2 separate regions of the Homo sapiens genome follow, and region 2 is linked to region 1. Evidence: fine-mapped expression QTL. A gene starts in region 1. The other region holds a variant in brackets. All regions are shown on one strand. Distances are from middle to middle.

Region 1 (4,405 bases):
CGGGTGACGTTTGGGTCCCCACGCCTGCGGTTCCTGGCGGATCTACAAGGCCTGAGACCCAGAAGACTCATGGGCGCTCCCGCCTCTTCCGCCCTAAAGAGCAAGCCGAGGGAAGACTTGGCCTGGGACCTCAAAGCGTGGGACGGTTTCCAAAACCTTGAGGAATTCTCTCTCCAAGCCTGTTCTGCGAGTTCCCAGGCTCCCTCCCCAGCCATGCCAGCCTCCACTCACCACTGACTGCGTCTTTGAAGTGGGTTTTCTCCGAGGAGTCGTAGACAAACTGCACTTTGCTCAGCCTCCAAGTCGCCTCAGGTCCCTTGGACATGTTGTGGCTTTCCTGTTGAGCCGGGGAGGTGCGCTTCAATCGTCCCCGCAGCGTCTGGGTTCTTAAACCTAGGGGCCGCCACTTCCCACACCCACGCGGAGCCTGCGGCCCCTCTGCCCGCTGGGCTCGGAGTTACCTTTACAAAGAGCATTTTGAGTGCATATGCGCGATCCACCCAGAACACTTGCAGCTCCGACTGGCTGTGGCCACAGCGGCCCTTCACCTCAGCTCCCCGGGTCAATGCGATATCGGCCTGTTCTGTGATCAGCTGGGAACACAGACGCCCCGCGCCCCCTCAGCTCGCCCGGCCCCGGGGCGGGGGCTGTAAAGGGCGGCGCGTCCAAACTCTGGGTTGCACGCTTGGGCGCTCCTTTGCGCGCGCGCATCCCAGGTTCCGGGAACATGCGGTTAGATGCTCTACGTGCAGCCCCGATAGGGAAGCGGAGAGAAGGGGGTTTACTTTCAAAGCAGGCAGGGGAACAGAAGGCATTACAAGCTGGAATCCCCATGCAGCATTCGGGAGCAGCCTGCCGGGGTGTGGGAAAGAAGGCGGGCAACCCAGGTCTTCGAAGAGCCTTGAGGAAGGGTGCCCTTCGCCCTGGAGCCCTAGGAGCAAGCTGAGGGGGGGGAAAGATTCCTTACATCTACGTAGTTGCTGGCCCACACATCATAAGGTACAATAAATTTGGCTGCAAACTCTGCCATGAGACACGTCGTCCCATTTTCCCGCACCACAAATATATCTTTTTCAGGGTTAGTGGAAAGGCCTGAGAGATTTTCCACTTCTTGTTCTGCCATGATTTGAGCCATTGTATCTGCGGAACAAACAAAACAATTCCATCAGTTCAGGGCTCAGCCCACGCGTCTCGGGCGCTAGGGTGGGGAGACAGTGCTCTGCAGGCTTTGGAGTGACAAAGTTCTCTGCCAGCAGCTGTGCGCTCTACGAGCCGTTTCTCTAACCCGGGTCTAACAAGCCTCATTCCTTCGCTGTTAATTTATAATGAAAATACAGTTAAAAAAATTAAAAATCCTGACTTTGTTTGTAATATAGCTGGCTGTTTTCTACATCTTGGGATTTTAAAGTAAATATTTCTTGCCAATGCTCTGACCTCACGAAGCTGGCCTGTCTAGGCTCTGTCTGGAATATGCCACAGAGGTGTATGGCTCTCAGGGGAATTCCCTGCCACCGGCGAGGAAGGCCCTCCCTCCTCCCCTAAAAGAAAAAAAGAAAAAACACCGCAAAACATTAAGGGCCATATTTTTTATCTCAAGCTAATTGACTTTACTTTGCCGGCTCTGTTCTCTGCAAAGAGTGCCCGTCCTCTCTCCCAGTCGCCAAATCGCTACTCACGGAACAACATCAGGAGAACTCGAAGTCTGTCGATGCTGGGGACCCCTCTTCCTTGGAGATCCATACTCGCAGTGCCCCGAATGAGGCCGGCTGTGCTGCTGCAGAGGCCGCCAGAGAGGGAATCCCTCAAAGTCGCCGCTGGAGTGGGCCGGGGTGAGCGAGAGGCGGGGGACAGAGAAGGGGGAGGGAGGGAGCGCGTATTCTGTGAGCGCCTAGCTAGGACTCGGTGTCGAGCGCGGCACCGACAGCTGCTGGCAGAGCAAATCGGCTCACTGCGGAGGAAAGGACCGCACGGCGGTCCACGGCTGCGAGTGCTGAAAGCAATCCGATTGTGTGGCAGGAGTGGCTGTGGCTTGGCTTGTGCGGAGGGCCAATGAGATCTGGGGGGACTAAACTTCTCCCTGGGTCTGTTTCCTGTTCTGCAACTGCATCCGCAAAGATGAGTCTGTTCTGAGAAACTTAATACCACCCTCAGCCTTATTAAATCTCCTTACCAGGTACAGTTATTAAGTGGTGTAGATACCTTATCACTGGAGTACTGTCTTCTGAAAACGCATCTGGTTCCCGAAAGAAAACGGTGGAGCAAAAATTGTTGCTGATTCGGGGGAGGAGGGCTATGCAGGAATAGAGAAGGGAAAATGCTATGGCAACAGTTTCCTGAATTTGGAGACATCCCCTTCTCTCCCCTGCTCTCAATGAGCTCATGGGTTTAAAGTTAAATTGACGCCTCCTCGAACGAGGCCATCAGACAATGCAGTAGCTCCATGTGGGCTTATTTTCCTGTGAATTTTGCTCCCGGGTGCATGAGGACTCTGAACTCTGGGGTCACCTACCCTCCCGCATTATACTGTGACCACTCTGCCAAAAAGGGATGCAAGCAAATCAGAAGTTTTTGAGAGTTATCTAGTGTCTCCTAGGACAGAAATTTTAGAATTATGCCCTAAGTAATGTCACATAGTTATGTAAGAAAAACACACACTGATATTACTCTAAAGCCTGTAGTGGAACAGAAGAACAAATACTACTGGGCTAATTCCTGTATTTACATATTTGGTAGCTTGCTTATTTTTTATTTTTGCTCTGTAAATCAGAATACAGCTTTCAAAAATACACATGCAGTCCTCATCAATTGTAGTGATGTCCAAATATTTTATTCCTTAGAAGATATTTCATAATGCAAATAAATGTTGCATCAGTAATATAATGTTATAAAACAATGTCATATTAAAGGGAAAATTGCAAAGTATTTCACCTGCATTATCTAATTTGATTCTCCCCAATCTTAGAGGGTAGGCAAGGAAAGATATGAGTTACTGTGGTTTTACATACCCCAAAACTGAGGCTCAAATAAATTAAATGACCTTCCCAAATGTCACATGGTCAGTTAGAATTAAAATACAAAAATCACATGCTTTAACTCTGTGAGATTATCTTCATTTCTCCTTATATAATATTTTTACTCCATATTTTGACTTCCATAAAAATCTATATTCAATATCAAATAATAATCTGAAATCTGAAATCTCTATCATTAATTCACATTCTTCAAATTTATAGAATGCTGTTTTAAGTATAATCACATTCTGACATATCTGCCACAAAGTATCTATATAATGTTTTTGGCTTTCAAACATATTCCTATATCAATCATTAGATCACTAGCAATTCAAAGTATAAAGTAATATTAAAATTGACATTATATTTTGACATCTTGACTTTTATGTTTGTAGTTCAGTATTTCATCCAAACATTTCTCAAGAACTTTACAAAGATGATTATATATAGAAGAATTGATGCAAATTTTACAGAACTTAACAGAAATGATTTTATACAGAAGATTGATAAAACGTCAGTTCTCATCAGTTGAAAGTGGAAGAGATAACATTTGTATGTGTTACATTTTTTCATGTTAGCAATTATTATTAAACACTTATTTTCCTGTAGTACTGTAAAACTGGAAAACAATGAGACATGTAATAAAGTATTTATTCTCTCTCTCTCTCTCTCTCTCCAGTATTTTATGAGGACAGAAATGAGTAGATTTCAGTCCAGGATTCACTACTTATTATTTTTGTGACCTTCTGAAGATTTTATTTGTTCTCATCTGAAAAATTGGGAAAATAACTCAGGGGATGGCTAGTTAAACCAAATGGGCCAATGAGTATAAATAAACAAAGTACAAATAGATCCATAAACATTAACCGAATACTTACTACTTCCAGTATGCTTGATGCTTTGAAAACCAAAAGATATTTATCATTACACAAGTAGGAGAGACACCTATAAAAGATTTTGACAATTTCTCTTGCAGTATGTTATTGCAGATATCTTCACTATATAAGTTGTTAAAAGATCAACTGAATTAATTCATGATTATCTGCCTTAATAATAAAAGATTAGGTGAGTAGTAGCATTGGTCATTGATCTTAAAATGTAGTAGTTGATTTACAAATGAGATGGTTGTTCCTTTGAAAATTATACCTGATATAAATGATCTCTTTGTTGACACTGGAGAGTGTACCCTAGAGTACTCAAATGGGTTGAAAGAAGAAAGAAAGCAATTTTAACTCTTTTTTTCTGGGGGGATTATTTTCAAAGCACAATCAGTTTAATGACTTTTTTAATATTTAATCTTAAACATGGCTAACAAATGCCCATTAATTTATCATCTTATCCACTGTGATACATTGCAATAGGAGTTAGGTCATTATACCTACAACTTTCACCTA
Region 2 (4,405 bases), 26 kb after region 1:
AGAGAATCCAGCCACACTGTGCCCAGACCTTTGACCTACAGAATTGTGAGATAGTAAGTGGGTTTGCAGTAACTCTGTGGTCATTTGTTATGCAGTAATAGAAGAGGAATACAATGTGAACTTGCAATCTACATGAGGTGATAAGAATAAGTGTGTAAAAGACAAAAGTCTAGAACTAATGGCTAACAGACGTGGTCTGGGTCATAAATTCTGCATTCCATTGTGAGTAGGGAAGAATTTGGAAGGGTGTCATGGGATGGAAGCATCATAGACAAAAGATTCCTGAGATCCATCTTTTCTCGTGAAAGGAAGAAAAGAAAGCATTTTGTTAGATAAGGTGGGACTGGAGCATGGGAAGTTTGTGCCTCCACATAGTTTGAGGTCATGAAGACAAAGACAAGCGAGTGTTTCAAGAATGGGGCAATGGTTGACTGTGTCAAACATTGCAGAGAGGTTTTGATGAGCATGTAGAAGAGACACATGGGATTTGGCTAGGTGAAGGTCATCCACATCTTAAGCAATGCCAATGGACATGATGGGAGTTTAACAGTGAGTTTACCTCCACATTTGTAATCCATTGATATTTGACAAGGATGCCAAGACAATTTGATTGAGAAAAAGTTTTTTCAACAGAGGCTCGGTAGATCTCTAGAACTTATGTAAAAACAAAAACAAAAACAAATGGTTCTGGGACAACTAGCTATCCATATACAAAAGAATGGCATTCACCCTTACAGTAGATATAAAAAGAATTCATAACGGATCAAAGACCTACATGTAAGAGATTAAACTATACAACTCTTAAAAGAAAGCAGGCATAAATCTCAGTGACCATGGATGAAGCAATGGTTTCTTAAATATGACACCAAGAGCACAAGCAACAAAAGAGAAAAATAGACAAATTGAACTTCATCAAAATTTAAATTTTTGTGTTTCAAAAGACACCATGAAGAAGGTGAAAAGGCAACCCACAGAATGAGAGAAAAATTTTGCAAATTATATATCTGAAAAAGGACTAGTATCTAAAATGTGTAAAGAACTCCTACAACTCAGTAATAAAAAGACAACACAATTTAAAATGAGCAAAGGTTCTGAGATATATATTTCTACAAAAAAAGATATACAACTTGCCAATAAGCACATGAAAAGATGCTTAATACCATTAAGGATCAGGGAAGTGAAAGTCGAAACCATAATAAGATACCAACGACACACACACTAGGATGACTATAATAAAAAAGGTAATAAGTATTGACAAAGATGTAGAGAACTCAGAATCTTCATACACTGCTGGTGGAAGTGTGAAATGACGCAGCCACTTTGGGAGACAGTCTGGCAGTTCTTCAAAGAGTTAAACGTAGAGTTACCATGTGACCCAGCAATTCTACTCCTAGGTATATACCCAAGAGAAAAGAAAACATACATCCACACAGAAACTTGTATGTGAATGTTCATAGCAACATTATTCATAATAGCCCCAAATCAGAAACAACCCAAATATCTATTAACTGATAAATGAATAAATAAAATGTATTATCTTCCTTTAAAGCTTGGTATACTGAAAAAGTTGGAATTTGTCTCTTCAGAGGTATCTAATGAATATTACTCTATTAAACATCTTATTGAAATGAACTTTGCTAACCAATTATTAAAAGTATATCAATCTAATACATTTTTCCAAATATTTAAAATCATACCTTTATATATCATGCAAAAATAATGACATGATATTATTTTAAAATTCCTAAAAGAGTTTCTATAGAGTATGTATTAAGATGAAGAGGAGTTCTCAGCTAAAAAGGTAAACACAGCCACAAATGATCTTCAAAATACCACTCTTTGAACACTTAGGATATGCCTGGAACTGTATGTATTAAATGATTCAAAAGCTAACTTGATTCTCACAGCAGCACCATGAGGTAGGTGGCATTACATCCATTCTACAGATGGAAAGCTCCAATTCTGCGGCATTAAGTAGGATGCCTGAAGTCCGCAGTTAGTGAATAGCGGAGTTAGGATCTAAGCTGTAGTCAGTGGGATCCCAAATTAGACTGTTAATTGCCACACTGACTTCTACAAGTAGAAAGTTTCATCTATCTCAGCTGATCCCAGTTGCACCCATTTCCATTTTGCTTTGCACTATCATTTAATGTTACTGCAGATCCCCTTGGGAGAATTTATGCCAAATTCATCATCTGGGTTCTCTTTAATCTGACAGCTGCCACCTTTCCTAAGTGGATATTTCTGCTATTTTTCTCGGGTGTGTCATTTCCTGTCCCTTGTGAGAGGCTCTCTCTTAAGTTACTCTTGTATTGTTTCAAATCATTTTCTGTTGCAGACTTGGAGAGTTGGCATGGAAAATGCTAGAAGGGAAGAATAAAGAG[AGT/T]CTATTCCACATCCAACTCTGCCTCCCTCACTCAGCACAGGCTTTTGAGAGGAGTAGAATAGTTTCCTTGTGGAGCAGCAAAGCCTGCTGAATTAATTTTATGCTCAAAACTCTTCTGAGTAATTATGCCTCTTCGATGGTTTCCACTAGGCAACAGGCTTCAGAAGTAAACTTTGTTATTTTGGCATCATCCCTATTGGTCTTCTGAATGTGTATATGTATTTTTGTATACTAAATTATATTTCATTCCCCCCATTCTCTTTATACCATGAACATATATCTATTGCTATATTTTTAAAACATGGGTTTAATTGAGAATTATACATGCAATGGAAGACACAAATCTTAGGTGTATTCCCTGATTCCCTGATCAATGTTTACCTGTATAAACACCCATGTAACCTCCACGCAGCGTAAGTTATAGACCAGCAGTTCTCAAAATCTTTGGCCTCAGGGATTCCTTAACACTCTTAATATTTTTAAAAAACTCAGAGTTTGTTTATGTGAATTATATCTGTAAGCATTACTATGTTAAAAATTTGAAACAGGAATTTCAAAATATTTCTCAATTCAATAAAAATAACAAAACTGTCACTTGTTAATATATAACCAATATTGTACTATTACAATAACTTTTTTGTGAAACATAACTGTATTTTCTAAAAGTTGGTGGGAGGAGTGGCATTGTTTTACATTGTTGCAAATGTCTTTAACGTATGGCTTTACAGAAGTCATCTGAGTTCTAATGTCTTTTTCTTCATTCGGTCTGTTGTGATATGTCATTTTCACTGCAGTATATGAAGAAATCTGGCCTCCCACAGAGACGGATTTGGAAACAAGAGGACTACACAGACCCTCTGACAGTCTCTTGGGGGACACAATGGCTTGCCAAGGGATCCTTGATACACACTTCGAGAACCACTTGCATAGACCATCACCATCATCCTGGAAGGTTTTTTCAGAGAGGACCACTACTCTGACTTCCTTCAAGATTAGCATTGCCTTTCCTTGATCTTCATGTATGTGGAATCATAAGGTAAGTACTTTCATGTGTTCTACCCTGTGAATATACTACATTTCATCAATGCATCCTCCTATTGGTACACATCTGATTTGTTTCTAGCTTTTTATTATTATGAATAAAGAACATGCTTTTTGATGAACACATACACAATACACTCATTTCTTTTTTTCTTTTTTCTTCTTCTTTTTTAAGATGGGGTCTCGTTACGTATTGCACGCTGGGGTGTGGTAGCTATTCTTGGGTGCGATCATAGAACACTACTTTGTACTCTGGGATTAAAGAGGAGGCATAGCCTTGAATTATATTGTCAGCCTCCCAAGTAGCTTGGACTGCAGGTGTGTATCACCATGTCTGGCTTACACTCATTACTCTTAGAGTGTAATTGCTGGGACATAAGATTGGCAGACGTTTAGCTTAATAGACTTCCAAGCCTTAGAAAATATTTTTACTTTGCTGAATTTTATTTCAGCATATATTATTTAGCATAATATACTTTTAAATTATTCGAAATATATTTAAATACATTCCTCTTATTAATACCTAATATATGCTCCTATATTTTTCTTTTAAGAATTTTGCTTTAAAATCAGTCTAACTACTCAATACCATATATTTCCATTGCTAGACTATTGCATTTAAAAAATCTGTGTCCCATATTTTATGCAATTGGACAAAGTAATGTGGTAAAGTAATTCCCCGTTTATCTGCAATTTTAGGACCCATAACTCAAACAGACCAGTCCGAAAGCAGCTACTTAATATTAGCATCCAAGACTGTGGCAGGAGGTCATTTGAGTGACCAGGGAGCCCAAAGGAAAAAGAGAGAAGGTTTAGAAGCAAACCAAAAAAATGAAAAGACAGGGAGGGGGAGGGAGAAAGTCAAAGAAGAAAGAAGAAGAAGGAGTAGGAGGAGGAGGAAGAAGAAGGAGGGGGAGGAGGATGAGGAGGAGGAGGTGTTTGTCAAATGACAAAGTTAGTTGAAATCATCAGCAGTCC

Which allele goes with the higher level. Alleles are on the strand shown, and positions count from the first base shown. SD is a standard deviation of normalised expression in the study named.
For the expression in esophagus muscle of the gene that starts at base 2,003 in region 1, allele AGT in region 2 goes with a higher level than allele T (small effect, 0.30 SD a copy in GTEx).

What was found. PIP is the estimated chance that this variant, and not a neighbour inherited with it, causes the effect. A credible set is the group of variants that fine-mapping cannot tell apart.
Region 2: its variant is the best candidate, but not a certain one, in a credible set for the expression of LAMP5 in esophagus muscle (GTEx, PIP 0.69).

Annotation. Positions count from the first base shown.
Region 1 is chr20:9,512,188-9,516,592 of GRCh38, reverse strand. It overlaps LAMP5 (lysosomal associated membrane protein family member 5), which reads right to left and starts at 2,003. Exons shown (of 6, transcript NM_012261.4): 1 at 1,677-2,003; 2 at 968-1,140; 3 at 462-593; 4 at 232-337. The coding sequence starts at 1,740. LAMP5-AS1 (LAMP5 antisense RNA 1) reads left to right here and starts at 1,595. Exons shown (of 5, transcript NR_109957.1): 1 at 1,595-1,829. RefSeq lists an enhancer at 484-1,068.
Region 2 is chr20:9,486,189-9,490,593 of GRCh38, reverse strand. No RefSeq gene overlaps it. Among named protein-coding and RNA genes, the nearest start is that of LAMP5, 26 kb to the left of the region's middle. The variant AGT/T (reference allele first, on the strand shown) is at 2,385.